Linked DNA regions of Homo sapiens: regions 1 and 2 are each linked to region 3. Evidence: fine-mapped expression QTL. A gene starts in region 3. Each other region holds a variant in brackets. All regions are shown on one strand. Distances are from middle to middle. Region 1 overlaps PHC2 (polyhomeotic homolog 2). Region 2 overlaps TRIM62 (tripartite motif containing 62). Region 3 holds the start of A3GALT2 (alpha 1,3-galactosyltransferase 2).

What was found. PIP is the estimated chance that this variant, and not a neighbour inherited with it, causes the effect. A credible set is the group of variants that fine-mapping cannot tell apart.
Region 1: its variant is the best candidate, but not a certain one, in a credible set for the expression of A3GALT2 in whole blood (GTEx, PIP 0.66).
Region 2: its variant is the best candidate, but not a certain one, in a credible set for the expression of A3GALT2 in whole blood (INTERVAL, PIP 0.71).

What each region holds. Positions count from the first base shown.
Region 1 is chr1:33,356,946-33,361,945 of GRCh38, reverse strand. All of the region lies in intron 7 of PHC2 (polyhomeotic homolog 2), which reads left to right. It overlaps PHC2-AS1 (PHC2 antisense RNA 1), which reads right to left. Exons shown (of 3, transcript NR_125978.1): 2 at 2,872-3,085. Among named protein-coding and RNA genes, the nearest start is that of PHC2-AS1, 9.1 kb to the right of the region's middle. The variant TTCAG/G (reference allele first, on the strand shown) is at 2,741.
Region 2 is chr1:33,160,645-33,167,397 of GRCh38, reverse strand. TRIM62 (tripartite motif containing 62) reads left to right here. Exons shown (of 5, transcript NM_018207.3): 2 at 1,832-1,927. It also overlaps a transcript of AZIN2 not described here and a transcript of ZNF362 not described here. Among named protein-coding and RNA genes, the nearest start is that of TRIM62, 18 kb to the left of the region's middle. RefSeq lists enhancers at 2,754-3,486, 3,487-4,219. The variant G/AACAG (reference allele first, on the strand shown) is at 2,813.
Region 3 is chr1:33,317,171-33,323,923 of GRCh38, reverse strand. It overlaps A3GALT2 (alpha 1,3-galactosyltransferase 2), which reads left to right and starts at 2,826. Exons shown (of 5, transcript NM_001080438.1): 1 at 2,826-2,848. The coding sequence starts at 2,826. PHC2 (polyhomeotic homolog 2) reads left to right here. Exons shown (of 15, transcript NM_001385109.1): 15 at 1-298.

The sequences.
Region 1 (5,000 bases), 39 kb before region 3:
ATTTCCTCATCCGTAAAACAGAGGTGATTATATTTCCTATGGGCTGTAAATGACTGAGATGGCCTGTGCAAGTGACCGGCACAGAGAAAGCCCTCCCTCATTCCCACGCTCCATCACCACCCAGCTTATCACCAGTTTGTCACCAGGTTCTGATGAGACTTCCTCTTGTTTTGGCTTCCTGCTTTGCTTAAGGCCTGCTGACGGGATGAGGCTGAACTGATCGCCAGGATATCCTACTCACAACTGCTAGAATTATCTCCCTCAGAGACTGTTATTTCCTTCTTGTTTAAAAACCTTCACTGTGGCCAGGCACGATGGCTCACGCCTGTAATCTCAGCCCTTTGGGAGGCCCCGAGACAGGCGGATCACTTGAGGTCAGGAGTTTGACACCAGCCTGGCCAACATGGTGAAACCCCATCTCTACTAAAACTACAAAAATTAGCCAGGTGTGGTGGCTCATGCCTGTAATCCTAGCTACTTGGGAGGCTGAGGCAGGAGAATTGCTTGAACCGAGGAGGCGGAGGTTGCAGTGAGCAGAGATCATGCCATTGCACTACAGCCTGGGCGTCAAGAGCGAAACTCCATCTCAAAAAAACAAAAAACAAAAACCTTCACTGTGTCTTTATGTCCTCCTTGATCAGCTGGAATGCCTAGTCTATAGTAAGGGCTCACTCAATATCATGTTAATGACTTCTGACTATCTGACTTCATGGGGGACCTTAAAGACCCTCCCCCCACTGCCCACTGCACCTGACTGCTCGTGGTGTCCTCATGCAGACGCTCTGTTATGGCCAAGCAAATATGCTGTTGTCTCTTCTCTCCCACTCCTACCCCTTTGTGACTTTCTTGGCCTGTCATATGCCCTTTTCCTCCCTGCCTCCTGGCGTTAACAATCCCTTTTTGTTGTCCATACCTCCAAGATTGCCTCCAGTATTCTCAACTGCCTGCAACTAATACTCCTAGGCTTGCGGTACTCGCTCGTCCTTACTGACTTCTGTTATTCACTTGGCCATCAGCATTTTTGACCTTTTTTGTCCTTACTGACTTGTGTTATTCACTTGGCCATCAGCGTCTTGTAATATGCAAGGCACCATGCCTCACCTGTCAAATGAAGTCAAGTTCCCCTTCACTTACTGCATTGTACAAGTCACTTGGAAACTACTCTCAGCTCTTGCTTGTAAAATAAAAACACTTCTCAATTGCCTCATGGGCTTCTTGTTAGAAATAAATTAGATTTAAATGATAAAAATTCTTTGAGAAGTTCAAAGCAACACACAGATAACAGGTAGTATTTTAAGAATAGCTACCATTTACTGAGCATCTACTAGGTACCAAGTGTTGAGCAAAGGCAGTGAATCTCTTTGTGGTTTAAACAAAATAGTCCATTTGATACTAACAACTATGTGGTATGTGTCACCATTTACAGAACAGCAAGTCAAGATACAGAGAGGTTGAGCAATTTATCTAAGATTGCACAGCCTATCAGTGTCAGAGCCAAGATTTAAACCCAGATCTGACTGACTCTAAAACCCATGCGTTTATCCACTTATGCTATCCTGCCATCCTCTGCCAAGGGCAGGGTAGGGGCAGAGATGCAGATAACATTTTCTTTTATAATGCTCCAAGCTGCTTAGCAAAGTATCCTGTACACAGCAAGTATTTGGTAGTTTTTCCAGAGGGCTGCAGAACAGGCCTAAGAACCTTCAAGCATAATCAGACTATCATAGAGTGCCCCTGCAGCTGGCAACCCAACACCGTTTTGCAAGTTTCTTACAGGTAAACTTCCCTTAGCTCTACTTCCCCTCTCAAACTCCTCCTGACCCCATGCCAAGGGAATGCATCATGGAAAATTTGTGTGGCTATTGCTTTAGGGTTTTCTAAAAGGAGCTTCCTTGTCTATTCTTGTGTATGCAGAGCACTGACCTCTAGAGCTAACTCTAACCTTAGTTACCTCATGAAGCCTAATCACATGAGACATCTTTAGGGATAAGCAGCCCCTAGAAGGTGCTAGCGTAACTTAGACCCAGCCAAAAACTGCCTCCTTTCTGACTCCTCTCTCTTAGACACCTTGGCTTTCAACTATACATGATGCCCTGGAGATCCCTGAATTCACCATAGTATTTTATGCCTCTGAGTCTTCCCGAATGCTGTTCCTTTTGTCATCTTCCTAACTCTGAATCATGTTAAACACTTACTTGCTCTGGGAAACCTTCTCTGCTCTCCTTCCAAAGCTGAATCCCCTTTTCCGTGTTCTCAATATTCTGTGCTTATCACCTATCATAATATTTACCAAATTATGGTGAGAGTATCTGTCTTCCATCTCTTTTACTAAACTGTAATCTCTTCTAGGGACCATGTCTTAGCCAGTACCAACCATAGTACTTGGTGTGTGGTGGGTGCTTAATAAATTGTTTGTTGAGTGAGTGAATGGTTGAAAGTGTATCTTCCCTTAAGGGTAGTGGCTAGTAAAAAGATCTGCCATTCCTCTCCCACAGGCACATTCTCCTTGCTGGTAGGCCAGGTAACATCAAACTCTAGTCAACTATAGTGGACTTCTAGGAAAATGAGTGCATAAGTAGTCCTGTAACTATAACTGGTATGCTTGCAGCTCCCATATACTTTGCGGCAAGAGTCCCAGCATTTCTGGGACAGTGAGTCGTTTCCTGCATATTTGAAGCCTTGAGAACAAGTCTTGTAGGATAAACAAGTCCCACCATGTTGTCTGTCATTCATTCATTCA[TTCAG/G]CAATATTGATTGAGCATCTACTAAATTCAAGATATTTTGGAGGAAACAAATGTCTCACATAAATTCTGCCTACTAAAAGAGATAAGTCACTTACTGAAATAACTCTGAGATAGGTGTCATCCTTACCTCCATTTTAAAGATGATGACATAGAGGTACAGAGAGGTCAGGTAACTCACTCACCCCATGTCACACAGCTGGTAAGCAGCAGAGTTGGAATTCAAATCCAAGCATTTTGACTCAAGAGCTCACACTTGACTTCTGGGCACACTGCTTCTCTGAGGGCAGTGCAAAGCAAAGCGGCCTGATTGTCATCTCAGAGAAAGGGGAAAGTCCTGTCAGCTGTAAAGACCAGAGAATGGTGACTAGAATTTGATTTGTAGCACTCTAGACAGTATGAGAAAAGGCATATACTCTGTACAGGGTACAGTGAACAGTAAAGATTGCTTGGGTCAAAGAAATAATAAAAATTAAAAGGTTGGTTTATGTTGTAAAGAGATCCTGAATGTCTGCCAGGGGCTTTAGACAACCGTAGACAAAGGAGAGTCCCTGGCGGTTTTTAGTGAGAGATCAGATCTGTGCACTAGGAAGATTAGTTTGCTCTCTCTAAGCTGGATTACAGAGAGAAGAAACTGGAATCAGGAAGACCCTTCCTCTACTGCAGTACTCGAAACAAAAGGATTTTTTTTTGATCCAGGATAATGCTGGAGTTAAATCATGATCTTTGTTTTTATTAACCTCAAAAAGTTAAGGATGTATTAATATATACCCCAAATACCTTTGGGTCTCTGATCTATAAATTGATTCAAGCCTTATGAGCTTGATTTCCAGCCTTGGTGTATAGTAGCCTCGTTTGTCCTAAAACAATTGCTTTCAGTTTTCCATGAGCAGCACAGGGTGGGGAGGGAATGGGATAGGAGAGGAAGCACAGGAATAGAAGCCAGGCAAGCAGTCCCCTTTCCCAGTCTTTTGGGAAAACAAATGTGTGTTGTCCCTACCTATACTCTTTATGCTGTAGAGATTTAGAACCTTTTCCCTCTGTAATCCTTTTTCCTCCTTATTAACCCTGAATTGTAAACTACTTTTCTGCTATAGCCACTCCATCAAATTCTAGATGTGGAAGAGATTTATGTGATCACCTAGCCCAGACCTCCTCTTTCACAGATTAAACTCTGAAGCCCTGAGAAAGAAGAGTACCTTGTCTCAGGCCGCACAGCCAGCAAGTAGTGGGGCATGCCATTGATCCTCTTAGCCTCCCTGACCTGGAACCATCTCCAGCTCCCACCTCACATAGGCAGCCCCTAAGAATGATTCCACATCCCAGGAGCAGGAATCCATGATTTTGCATTACAGGAGAAAAAGTTTTGGTTGCATTTGCAGTGACATGCCCAACATTTGCAGATCATTTTGGCTGTGGGGGCCTAACAAAGTCCTGTGTGGCCTCTTCAGTGTCTCCCAGGTGCCTTATCAACAGTCTTCTCAAAAGTGCCTGATTGTTAAATTCCGACCTATTCAATGTGAGATAAGGAGACACAGCTTAGATTGGGGTCAGTTTATAATCACCAAATGTCTGCTGGCATTTCCACAAAGGTTCCGCCATCAACCCAAACCCAACACACTTCCCTCAACATCACACTGGTGTCCAAGTTTCCCAAACCTGTCATTCAGTATCATCCATACTAAACCCCTCTGGGCCATCCATAGTCCCTCTCTCTCTGACTACGACAGTCAGTCACCAAGGACCATTTTGCTTTTCCTTTGTAACACATCTTATTTCTGTCCTTTCCATTCCTATTGGAATTCTGCTTGGAATTTCACGTTGGGCTGGGATGAGACCATTCAAAACTTGCATGTGAACAGACAAAATTCAAGAAGGAAGGCACCTCCCCTAACTCAGTTTGAAACCTGCTTACTTTGCACCTGTTGCATCACAGGATCCATTTAAAACGTGAGCTCAGGACCCAGAATTCACCTTTATCCTTACTGGCATGAGGCTTTAGTTGTAAAAATCCATTTGCGGGCCTCCAGCTGTGGCCTGCCATGCACTTGGCTAGCTCTCCAGCCGTGGAAGTCTCTGTGGAGGGCAGTTTTTAAACAGGACAGATTCAGCTGAGCTGCTTCATCCTAGGCTGGCCTGGCACTAGCCAGAGAGTGATCTGTGCAAAGACAATCTCTGAGCTGAATTTCCTGAATCCCTACTCCAAACAAGGCATGAGCTAGACACTGAAGGGATACTAAAAAATATAAGAATTTTCGC
Region 2 (6,753 bases), 160 kb after region 3:
ATTTATCACTTGACAAATAATCACTGAGTCCCTGGGCATAAGGCAGGGAACAAGCCAGACAAGATTCCTACTACTCTCATGAAACTCACATTCTAGTGAGGAGATAAGCAATAAACACACAGTCAAATATATTCAGACAGCAGAAGGCGCAAGGAAGACCGTGAATCCAGATGTGTGACAGGGTATGAGGAGGTGCCACTGTGCGTGGGGCGGTCAGGCAAGACTCTTCAAGGAGGTGGCATCTGAGTTAAATTAATGGTACAAAGGAGTCACCGTGAGAAACTCTGAGAGTGGAGGCCACCAGCCAGAGGGAATAGCCAGGGCATAGTCTGAAGATTGGAACGAGCTCAAGATGGTGGAGGCACAGGAAGAAGGCCACTGGCTGGATGGGAGTGATGGGGGAGGGTGTTGGAGACAGAGGTGGGATCAGAGGGTGCCCCAAACTCAGCAATCAAGATGAATAGTATTTAATGCAATATTTCTTAAATCAAAATTAATGCAAAAAACCCACGATGAACAAAATTCAACATTTCAAACAAGGCCAGGATCACTAACAATGCTCTGCTGAGCCACACTGGAACCTGAGACAAAGGAAAAATCAGTGAGGCTGATTGTGTTTTTATTTAAAATTTTGATATCTTGTGTGTTGTGGATTTGTTGTTATTCATCGCAGGAGTCATCATGGTAGAAAACGTGTCACCTGGCATCAAGATCATGGTCTCCACAACCAGGCTGTCCGGGTTCCAATTCCTTCTTTACCATTATATGTTTATCTGTATGCTATGGGGCCAGTTTCTTGACCTCTCTGTATCTTTTTCTCCATCAGAAGATGGAGATAATAATTGTGCCTCCCTTAGGGTTACTGAGAGGCCCAAATGATTTAATATAAGCAAAGAGCTAAGAACTGTGCCCAGCCCACTGTAGCCCTCGGAGAATGTTGGCAGCTAGTCTGTAGCATTGGACTGGTACAGCTTTGGTTCCTTAGAGCAGTGGTCCCCAACCTTTTTAGCACCAGGGACCAGCTTCATGGAAGACAATTTTTCCACAAACCGCAGGGGGTGGGGGTGGGGTGATGGTTTCAGGATGATTCAAGCACATTACATTTATTGTGCACTTTATTTCTATTATTATTTCATTGTAATATATAATGGAATAATTACACAACTCAACATGATGTAGGATCAGTGGGAGCCCTGAGCTTGTTTTTCCGCAGCTAGACAGTCCCATCTGGGGGTGATGGAAGACAGTGAGTGATCATCAGGCATTAGATTCTCATAAGGAGCAGGCAACCTAGATCCCTCCCATGTGCAGTTCACACTCCTGTGAGAATCTAATGCCACCACTGATCCAACAGGAGGTGGAGTCAGGTGGTAATGCCAGCGATGAGGAGCGGCTGCAAATACAGATGGTTTGCCCCTCCCCACCACTGTTCATCTCCTGCTGTGCGTCCAGGTTCCTAACAAGCTATGGACCAATACCCACCTGTGGCCTGGGGGTTGGAGACCCCTGCCTTAATTCTAAGCGGGGATCCAGGGCCAAGTGTGGGGAGCCAGAGAGTGTGTATGTGGAAGTCGATTGTCACAGAAGCCTCTAGGGTGGCCAAAGAGGAGGAGGTTGTTGCAAAGATGCAGGTGAAAGATACGGACGGGTTCTGGAGGTGTTTAGGAGACAGACTCTACAGGACTTGCTGGTGGTTGAACTGTGACGGGAGGCAAGTGTTGGAGGTTGGGGACAGAGACCAGGCTAACCCCCAGCGCCTGGCAGTGGTCAGGGCTGAATGCCTGGGCCAGGCATGGCCCCTGCCCCCATCCCGGCCCTGTGTGTGTTTCAGAGGGAGCTGAAGGACCAACTTCAGGCCCTTCAAGACAGCGAGCGGGAACACACCGAAGCGCTGCAGCTGCTCAAGCGACAACTGGCGGAGACCAAGGTGAGCCTGGCCGGGGCGCGGAGGTGGGGCCGGCAGAGATGAGGGCAGGGCTTCGAGGGGCGGGGCCAGCTGGGGAAGAGGGGCGGGGCCTCGGGTGTGCGGTGGAAACCTGGCTTCAAGGAGCCAAACCTGGAGTGAGAAGGGCAGGGTGGGGAAGAGGGTAGGGCATCCGTGAAGTTCAATGGGGCGGCACCCACCCCATCATGACTGGCGGCAAGGATGTGGGCTGGTCCCTCGGTTAAGGACGGGGCCATTTCTCCCTTCCCACTTTGGGTGGAAGTTGAGGCGGGTCCCGGGACCCTCCGGAAACCCCCTGCCTCCTGAAGGGCTGGGGAATGTGCTCAGTCTCTTTCTCCTCTCCCCTTATTAAAACCGCCCAACCCTGGTGTTGTGACACACACTTGTAGTCCCAGTCTCTTCAGAGGCCGAGGCAAGATGATGGCTTGAGCCCAGGAGTTTGAGACCAGCCTGGCCAATATAACGAGATGCCTTCTCTACAAAAAAAAAAAAAAAAATTGAATATAGCCAGGCGTAGTGGCACATGCCTGTAGTCCCAGCTACTCTGGAGACTGAGACAGATGGGAAGATTGCCTGAGCCCAGGAGTTTGAGGCTGCAGTAGGCCATGATCATGCCACTGCACTCCAGCCTGGGTGACAGAGTGATACCCTGTCTCTAAAATGAATGAATGAATGAATGAATGAATAAGCCCATTGCCTAGGAGTCAATCCTGAGCATGTCCCCTCGAAGCCCTCCAGAGGTGGCCCAGCCCTGGTATCATCTCCCCTTAAGCTCAGGCCATGGGATACAGACTCTGAAAGGTAGGGCCAAACTCTGCAGTCTCTGGCTACCGTGGTTTGGGAAACAAACAAACAAACAAACAAACA[G/AACAG]ACTTTTCCACTGACTTGAGAAGGACATGGGTTCTGATCCCACCACTAACTCACTGTGTGACTTTGGGTAAATTGCATGCTTTCCTGGGTCCCCAGCCTTCCCATCTGTCCAGTGGGGACTGCCAGGCTCAGTCCAGCACTCTGGGACTGGAAGGTGCCGGGTGGAGTCCCCACTATACAGAGTGACTCTGTGTCGTGAGGCCTGGGGTGATTTCAGGCTGACCCCGCTCTGTCAGCAGGAGCTGCGGCAGAGCCTTAGGAATGCGCTGGGCCTCTGGAGGTCATCCTGGGGCCTGAAGACACCATTGGAAACCCAGATCTATGCCCCAGCTTGGCCACCAACCCACTGTGGGGTCTCAGGAAGGTCATGACAAACAATTCTTCACAGAACATTCCAGAGTGCCTCTGGGCAGGACCCTCGGGGGCAACAGATGATAAACAGTCACAGGATGCTGGCCTCATTGCTTCTTGCAGCCTCAGTTTCCCCAACTGTCTGGTGATTCTGTACCTCTTGGATGATGAGAAGCAAATGGAAGCCTCTCTCTGTATGAGAGCGGAGTATTATGGGCTGTTCCTTCTCCCCAGCAGCACTCTCTTCTCTCCACATCCCACACCCTCTTTGTTTTTCTCCACTGACCTCTTCCTCCCCCGCTTTCCTGTCCATCTGTCTGCCTCTGGGGGGTCCTGTGGGGCCACATCCCCCTCGAGTTCCCCCAGCCCCACTTCCTGTCTGGACTGGGGTGTTTATACAAGAAATGCCTATGGATGCTTTGGAGGTCATATTTCACCTGGTGCCTGACTCGGCTTTCCTGCTGCGCCTGCCCCTCCAATGGCCTGGCCTGAGGGCCTGTCTGATCTCCCTCCTCAGGCCCTCTGTTTTCCTTGGTCGGCGCCCTGGCGGGGTGATGCATTCTTGGCAGGGTGTTTTTCTGAAAGGGCCCCAGCACCTCCAGGCCCTAGGGTGTTCCAAGGGATGTGGTGGGTTGGGGTGGGGGCTGTTTCCCCAGCCACAGAGCTGAAAGGAGGGGGTTGGGGAAAGGGTGACTCTGCCCTGGAAAGAACTAGAATAAATGGGGTGCACCAGTTGAGCAGAACTTTTCTCTGTGCTGAGAATTGTGTTCCTCTTCATTATCCTGCCAACCTCACAGAATGTCACCTCCACGAGAGCAGGATTCCCTAAAACCTAGCACAGTGTCTGGCACACAATAAGTAGTTATAAAAAAAGTGATTGAAAGGAAAAAAAAATCGGCCAGGCACAGTGGCTCACGCCTGTAATCCTAGCACTTTGGGAGGCTGAGGCGGGCGGATCACCTGAGGTCAGGAGTTCAAGACCAGCCTGGCCAATATGGTGAAACCCCGTCTCTACTAAAAATACAAAAACTAGCTGGGCATGGTGGTGGGTGCCTGTAATCCCAGCTACTCAAGAGGCTGAGGCAGGAGAATTGCTTGAACCCAGGAGGTGGAGGTTGTAGTGAGCCAATATCGAGCCACTGCACCCCAGCCTGGGCAACAAGAGTGAGACTCCATCTCAAAAAAATAAAAAACAACAAAAACAAAAACCAAAAAAACAGGAAAGAAAAAAAATCGTCCCAGGTAGGAACTGTTGTTATCTCAATCTTATCAGTGAGGCAACTGAGGCACAGAGAGGTTGAGGGACCAACCTGAAGTCCCACAGCTAGAAAATGGCAACTTGGGAGCTTACCATCCAGTCCTGTCAGAGCCCAGTGCATAGTGCAGCTGGGATGTCTCCTGGGGTGTCCTGCAAGAGCTATGGCTTTGTAGTCAGCAAGCCAGGTAGGTCAGTAGGACTCATCGGGAATGTACTTGGGGCTCCAGGGGTGGCTGTCACTCTGATGTTCCACTGCTGGCTGCCCTGTCCCTGCCTTCCCCCCTTTCCCTCCCATCCTCTCTCGTCCTTGAGACATTGAAACCCCAGCCTGGAAAGAAGCTGGAGCCTGCACCCAGCTCTACGGAGCAATCTCAGACAAGACTCTTCCCTCCTTCACCCCTCAAGCAACTCCTGATTGCCAGCCTTGTACCAGGCTCTGGGATGGGCACAGGGGTGCAGAGCCGAGGGAGATGTCATTCCTACCCAGCAGGGGCCCACTTACTAGCCAGGGAGACAGAAAATGTGGGACAATGTATTAAGACTGTTGACAAAAGGCTCTGGGAACATCCAAGTGCCTGAAAGAGAGGAAAGTTATCTCTGAAGAGGTCACTTTCAAGCTAGGTCTTGCAGGATGAGTAGGAGTTTGCCAGTTGAATACAGGGTTTGGGTAGGGTCATTCTAGGCAGGTGGAGTTGCAATGCAGTGGCGCTAGGGAGGTAAGCTAGGGTTAAATTGAGAAGGTCCTTGAATGCCAGACTAAAGAGTTCAGCATTTTACTATGTGTCAAGGAGCTAAAGAAGGTTCCTAAACTCAGGATCATCTGTGATTCAGTTGGCACTTTAGAAGGATCACTCTGACAGTGAGTTTGCTGGCAAAGACAAGAGTTGACTTGTAGACCAAGTGAGTTGGAAAGACCTGTGGGACCCCAGAGGGATGTGTTGGGGAGACTGTTGGAAAAATGGGTGTGGCACTCAGGAGACAGGCAAGGCCATCTATATGGACTTGGGAACCATCCTTAAAGCAGTTCAAGTTGAAAATGGGGGCAGGTGTTCAGGGTGAGGATGGAAGGCGCTGACCTGGATGAGCCCCGAGGAACATGGGAGGCAGAGAGGCAGCAGTCACAGAGATGGGAGGCAAAGCAGAACTTTCAACTAGGAGAGGGTGGCGAGTGGGCTAAGTGCTGCAGAGTGGTCTAGGAGGAGCCAGAGGAGTAGCTGCGGAGTCTGGGCGCCTGTGGAGGGCAGCTCCAGGTGGTGCAGGGACGACGGACCCCATCTTCCCCATCAGCAACATGCCGCTGCAGAGGCCTCCACCCTCCCCGGGTGAGGGGGCTCAGGAAGGCCACGGCAGCCTGGCCGTGCATCCCCAGACTCTCGTCCGCCCCCCTTTGTCTGCCTGGCGTTCTGGGTGGGCATGCGCAGCGAGGCTGGCCCACCGCCAGCAGTTCTTCCTGCAGGCCAGCAGCCGCGCGTCGGGGAGGGAACAGGCCCTAATTGAGCCTTTGTAGAGCCTCCCACAGAGCCCTGGGCACTGAACACAGTGGGGTTTCTGACTCCATGAACTCCCAGCCAGAATCCCACAAAGTAAAATTGCAGAGGCAGGCCCCACATGCTGCTGCAGCCTGGCCGCACTTCTATAGCCCGTGTCGTCCTGACGTTAAGCCCTTCCTCATGCGGCTCCCTCTGCCTGTTCCCCTGACCCCCAACTGACATCCTGCCCATCCCTCAGGCCCCGGCTCAGAACCCGTCTCTCAATGAAGACTTCCGGGAAACGCTTATTAGAATTGCAGTCTTCAATAACCAGGCTCTTTCTCTGCGCCTTGGAGTGCGCACAACAACACCCCCTCATTTCATCTTCACCACAATCCTACAATGCAGTTTTTGTTACTCCTTTCACAGATAAGAAAACTAAGGTTCACAGCTCTTAGGCAACTGACGTTGCCATAGCTAGAGACCCAGAGCTAGAGTCCTTACGCAGACTGTCAGGCACCAAACCTGTGCCCTTCACTACTTCACCCTTCCTGAGCCTCACAGTGCCCTTGGGGGCAGAGAAAACCATGAAAGTTCATGCTTACCTCCCTGATCCTGTCTATAAACACCAGTCCTTGCTCCTTAGCCAGAGGGTCCTAGAGGTAACAGGAGACAGCGAGTAACCACCAAGGTTTTCTCAATACGTTGCAATTTACAAAGCTCTTTGATGTCTGTGATCTTGTCATCTTTCCTTGAGCCCCCTGAATGAGCCCCATGAATGATTTTTTTAAAATAAAGACTTCAGCCGGGCACGATGGCTCACGCCTGTAATCCCAGCACTTTGGGAGGCCAAGGTGGGCAGA
Region 3 (6,753 bases):
AACTGCTAAGGGGAAAGAACAGCTGGAGTTTCTGTTGATGTGAAGAAGGCAGCTCTTGGCCTCCCACTCCCACACTTCTTTGCCTATAAATCTTCCTAGCAGCAATTTGAGCTACCTGAGGAGGAGGCAGGGCAGAAAGGGCGAGGGCCTGCCTCTGACCTGCCGTGTCCTTTGCAGGAAGGAGGTAGGCACCTTTCTGAGCTTATTCTATTCCCCACCCACACCCCCAGGCAGGGTTGGAAATGAAGGACTTTTTTAACCTTTGTTTTGTTTTTTAAAAATAAATCTGTAAAATCTGTCTCTTTGGTGCCTTTCTCCCCTAGGAATGCCTGTCTCTGGGCCCAAATGGCTACTTTTCACCCATACAGACAGGTGGGTCCCTGGGCTGGGGAAGGGACCTTAAGTGGATGGCATATCCTCCACACTTTTCTGGAGCTGGGTCATTTGAGGGTGCCCTCAGCTGCAGTTCACACGGTAGATACCAGCTTTCTTCACACGGTGTCCCTTGGAGTGAGAGGGTCCAGAAGCCCTTTCTGCTCTGCGCCCCCCTACCCGCCATTCCCACTTGGGAGATGATGACTGTTGGGCTAGCAGCCTCTGGACACCTGGGGCAGAACCCAGACTCTCCCATCTTCCAGCACACACCTCTCGATAGAGCTGCACAGCATCCAGAATAGCCTTGGGATGGCTTTGGTTCACTGAGCACTTTTGCATGCTCAAATAGAAAATGATTAGGGCAGAGATGAGGCATCTAAGCCTTGAATAAAGAAGGAGAAAGGGCATTCCAGACCGAGGCATAAGTGCAAAGGCACAAGCATGAACGTGGAAGTGCAAATGAGAGGCAGGTGAGCTGGCTGGATTAGACGTGTGTGCTGCTAACCGTGACCTGTGTTGACCACATGCCTCTGAACCAGGCACTGTGCTAGAAATGAGACTGGGGTGAAGCACAGAATAACCATGTGCCCTCTTGCGTGGAGTGAAATCTACCCCACATCTATGGGGGGAGGGGAAAAAGAGGCAGCTTGGCCTTACTGCTCCTCCCCCTTCATCAGGTTTTTCCCTAAGGGACCATTTCTACCTGTTAAAAATTTAGGTTATGGCTGCTCACATCTGTAAACCCAGCACTTTGGGGAGGCCGATGTGGGAGGATTGCTTGAGGCCAGGAGTTTGAGACCAACCTGGGCAACATAGAGAGACCCCATATCTACAAAAAAATACCAAAAAATGGCAAGGTGGTGCATACCTGTAATCCCAGCTATTCTGGAGGCTGAGGTCGATCACTTGAGCCCAAGAGTTCAAGGCTGCAGTGAGCTATGATTGCACCACTGCACCCCCAACCCAGGTGACAGACAAAAACCCTATTTTTTTTTAAAAAAAAAGCAGGGGTGGGGGTGGTTTGAGGGTCAGGCCACAACCTACTGAATCACAGTCTCTAAAGGACAATTACTTACTTGAAAGTAACTTTCAAGAACCAACACTCACATCTTAATAACTCCTCTTTGGAAAGCCTATTAAAATGGAACTGTCTTGGAGGAGAAACACACTGATTAGTTGATCCCCAGGGGGTAGAACTAGGGACTGGAAAGCCTGTCCCAGGAGGCAGGGAATGGCTGGCAGGACCCTGAGCTGACGGGAGGAGGAGGATGCTGAGATTGGGGAGTGAGCCCTGGGGAGCCCCCAGGCAAGAACGAACGCCCCATGTGCTGCCGCCTCTCCTGCTGCTGGAGTGCAGGCCACGTGCGCAGGTGCACCACTGGCCTATAGGACTCTGGGCAGTTCTTTTCACTTTCTGGACCTTAATTTTCCCTTTATGGAAGAAAATGAAAACCAGGCCCCACCTGAGTTTGTTGTGTGTAGCAAAGAGGGAGGGAACCAAACCTACTCCTAAAAGAAGATGTGGTGAATTTGATTCACACCAATAAGTATCCATCTTCTTTAGATGAAAAGCTCCAACCTGCTGCAAGTTTGCAGGGTGCACCTGCAATAGGCATTTGCTATTCCTGTTGTTTACACTTCACACTGAATTTCACAGACCTATTTCCATCATGATCCACAATTTAAAGAAATATTTCCCAAACTTGTATACACATTTCAATATCTATCAACTGAAACAAACATTTCATGAAACAAAACCTACCCTTACGTACAATATAGAATATTTTCCATTGTATTCCTGTTCGTATTTTAAAAATCTTGGTCACGACCCACTAAACTCATTACACGGCCTTCAGATAGGTCACAACTGGAACTTTAAAAAGCACTGCCCAGAGTAAATCACAACGGTTCAACATCCACGAATTTACATGGTTCTCTCTCCTGGGTGACTGGTGTATGTACTGGTGTACATTCTACTGAGAAGGTAAAGGGCTCCACTAGGTGAACTGTCCAAGGTCACAGGTGCCGAGTGCCCTTCAGATCTGGCTGAGGCTCTGTGCAGAACGGCTTTTCCTGCGTGGCAAACACCATACCTTGATTGCCAGCTGTTCCCAAGAACCAAAGACACTTCCCCTGGGGAGGGAAGAGGAGTCTGTACAAAATGACAGAGCCTCCAGCCAACCAGAACTGGCCTACTCAGACCCACCCTCTTCCAGGTGATTGGCCCCAAAAGGGTTGCCAGCCCCACTCCACCTTGGGGCCAGCTTCCCCCAAAAGGTTGCATCCCCGGCAGGTCCCTCGCAGGCAGTCCATCCTGACTGCTCCTGTGGGTGCAGCTCCTCAGGTAAAGGGGGAGGAGCTGCTTGTTCCAGATCTCCAGGAGCAGGCCATTTCTTCCCCAGCTCTAAGCTGGGAAAGTTTGCTCCAGGCCATCCTACCTGCTTCCCCATATGGCTCTCAAGGAGGGACTCAGGTGAGGGGGGACAATGGTATGGAGAGGAAGAAAGCTTGGGGACAGCTGAGCTAAGAGGGATCCAGTCTGATGGCTAAAACAGTACCAAGGGGAGGCACCAGAGTGAGCCCAGGAGTACCAGCTGAGCCTCCAGTCCTGGGGAAAGGTGGCTCCGAGAGGGGACATTGCCCCAGGAGAAGAAAGACAATCCGTGTGCATGGACACCGGGGTGGGGGAGGTTGTATTCCACAAGATTTTGTAGCCAATGAAAAGCTGGACTCCCCTTGCTTCCCTTAACTCTAAACCCCCTTGGCGAGCCGGAAAGCAGAGACCCGGGGGTACATTCCCTCCCCGACTGTAACTGAGAGCTCCCTCTATCCCCACTGGGACTGATGGTCCAGGACTAGGAACCTGTGCCCCCTTAAGACCTAATGGCTGATCTTTAACCCTTTCTTGAAGCCAACGAGAGTGGGGAGCAGGGCACAGGGTGGAGCTTGAGGGACCACCTTCTGCAGGTAGAACCTGAACAAGAAATGTGGAGGAGTGGACTGATCAGGGGCCTCCACAGACCACGGGCTCCCAGGCTGGGGCATAGGAGGGGCAGGAGGAGCTGGTGGGTCCCACCCAGTCCTGGGTCTCAGCACCCTCCCAGGCCTGACCACAGGAGTTCACAAGACCAACTCTGCCTGTGTGCCCTGGCTGAGGCCCAGAGCCCAGAATAAGCATCGGTTTGCCCTACCCTGGTTGGGAGGAGGCTGGTGAAGAGGGTGGGACAGCCACAGAGGGGGAGAAAGCCCCTCCAGCCTTTTCCTGCTCCTGTAGTACCTTACGCAGTACCTCGCACACCTCCCACAGTGCACCTCCCGAGGCAGCCTTGCCAGCTCCCAGTACGGGGTTTGACCAGGCTTCTAGGAACCAGAGAAGCCCAGCTGCAGCCAGCCCTCCAGGAGCTCAGACAGGAGCTGAATAGAGTGCGAAGGGAAGAAGCCAAGCCCACGGGGAGAAATAACAGGGCCGAGAACCTTGTGAGATGAGCCTCAGGGCTGAGCTAGGCCCAGGTCAAATGGAACCCAAATGCCATGCTGGAAGCTCTGGCTGGGGGATCGGGCAGTCCTACTCAAAGCCCAACCCCACCCATTACCCGCCGTGCAAATGCCTTGGTGTAAAGTGTAAACAGGAATGGCAAATGCCTACTGAAGGTGCACCCTGAAAACCTGCAGTAGGTTGGGGCTTTTCACCTAAAGAACACGGATACTTATTGGAGGAGAAACAAGCTGATTAGTTGATCCCCAGGGGGTAGAACTAGGGACTGGAAAGCCTGGTGCCCCAGGAGGCAGGGAATGACTGGCAGGACCCTGAGCTGACAGGGGAGGAGAGGATGCTGAGATTGGGGAGTGAGCCGTGGGGAGCCCCCAGGCAAGAACGAACGCCCCATGTGCTGCCTCCTCTCCTGCTGCTGGAGTGCAGGCCACGTGCGCAGGTGCACCACTGGCCTATAGGACTCTGGGCAGTTCTTTTCACTTTCTGGACCTTAATTTTCCCTTTATGGAAGAAAATGAAAACCAGGCCCCACCTGAGTTTGTTATATGTGTAGCAAAGAGGGAGGGAACCAAACCTACTCCTAAAAGAAGATGTGGTGCATCTGATTCACACCAATGAGGCCGCCCAGCCTTGCAGAGGTGAGCTGTCACTGAGATCTGCTCCAAGCCTCCATGCATCCTCTCTCACACAGTGACCCTGGCCCAGCCCCCTTGCTGAGCGCTGCCCTGAGGTATTGTGTGTCCCCTGGACAGCAGTATTCACCTGAGTGTCCCAACTCAGTGCTTCTCAAGCTGCAGTTTGCATTTCCTTGATCTTTCCTTCTATGTTCTCAGCGATTGATCCCAGTGACCCAAATGGACCCCTGCTTTCTCCCCTGAGCAACTGCAACCCTAAGCAAGTGATTTAACCTTTCTAAGCCTCAGTTTCCTCATTTATAAAGTAGACATAAGCACAGCATCTCCTTCAAGGGGCTGTGGTGTGCCTTTAACAGGACAGGCACATAATACACTTGGCCAGGTATCCGTCTCAGTGTCTGGGATTATGCATAAGGAGTGCAGACTTAATCTTGAAGAAAATGGAGTTTTAAGCAAAGGAGTACCAGTCAACTTGGAAGAGAGAATGAACACAAATAACTCATTCGTTGTTTCATTCATTTGCTGAACAAATAATTATCAATAGCATGAATTATGAGGCAGAGGCATAATGAGTGAGGCAGACAGTCCCTAGCATCGCTTGGCAGGTACTGGAGGAGAGGTCTGGGAAAGGGACAGAGGCACATCCTGGGGGAGGGACCTAACGGAGGAGATGTCAAGGCCAGCTTCAGACAGGAGGAAGCTGGGTGCTGAGGAATGATGCGGAGCTTGTTGGCTGATGGAAGGAAGAGTGCAATCAGAACAGAATACAGAGGTGGGGAAGCCTAGGAGACTTCATAGTGAAGGGTAAAAGATGGAGACTCGGAGGCAGGGTCAGGAGGCTGTTATAGGAATCCAAGTGAGAAACAAGGAGGCACAGATAGGACAGTGAGGGAGGCCAGGAGGGGAGTTTTGGGCACTAGGAAGGAGGCAAAAGCAACAACTTGGCTGTCGGGAGAGAAAGCAGGGGTCCCACTTGGGTCACTGGGATCAATCGCTGAGAACACAGGAAGGGGAGAGTGAATGGCAGGATGGGGGAGGAGTGAGTAGGGGGACGGAGGAGAGTGAGTGGGAGAACCCCCAGGGTTTGCTGATGGGCTGCATGTGGGGCATTAAATTATTTGTAACAATATTTTTATTTAAACCAGCACATCCGAATTTATACCTGTTTCACTGTTTTAATGTGGCTACTAGACATGTTTAAATTACATGTGACTCACACTATACTTCCACTGGATGATGCTATTCAAGATCTCTTCCTACACTCATGAAAGAACGCGGCTATACGTGACTGCAAAGGCTCGAGTGCACAGGCACAGATGCTTCCCCCTGCCAGAAGCAAGGTCTGCCTCTCCGTATTAGTTATTCCTTCCTTTTCACCTTAACACATTAGGGTCTGTTTTCCAGAGAGTACATATAAATCTACCTCACCCTTTTCAATAGCCATGTTGATTTCTATTATACAAGTTGAGCACCCCTCATCCAAAAATCTGAAATCCAAAACGCTCTAGAATCCGAAATTTTTTGAGCACTGACAGGACATTCAAAGGAAATGCTCCCACTGGAGCATTTTGAATTTCAGATTTCCAGATTAGGGATACTTAGCCAGTAAATACAATGCAAATATTCAAAACTCCAAAAAAGTCCAAAATCCAAAACACTTTTGGTCCAAACTTTTGGATAAAGGATACCCAACCTGTATAGAGATGCCTAATTCATTGATCCAGTTCCCTACTGATGAACCCTGGGGTTGTTGCATTAGTTTGCTTTTTCAGAGAAGGCTATGGGAACATCCTGGGACTAGTCACTGCAGAGTCTCCATTCCTAGCTGCAGGCAAGCTGGCCAGGGGCTGTGAGCACTGACAGTGTTACAGTGGAGGAGCTGGACTTGGGAGGCTTCTCAGGCATGGTTAAGAGATGTGGACGGTGTCCTGCACTCAGCAGGAAACCACAAAATAACTTCAATTTTTTTGTGTGTAAATTGCTAACTTTGAATTTTTCCTTCATTAAAAAAGCAACCTACTGTAAATACATTACAGAAAATTGAGGAGAAAATAAGAAACTAATTTTATTGCACAAACACATTCTTCCTTTTAGTCTTATTTTCTGATGCACGTTTTTATTCTTGCTTAAATTGTAATCAGAGTGCACCTCAATTTTAGATCCTGCTTTTTTCCTTTCATGTTCCTGTATGAGCATTTTTCTACGTGACTGCAGAGTCTTCCTAACACGTTTATTTGCCAGTCCCTTCAG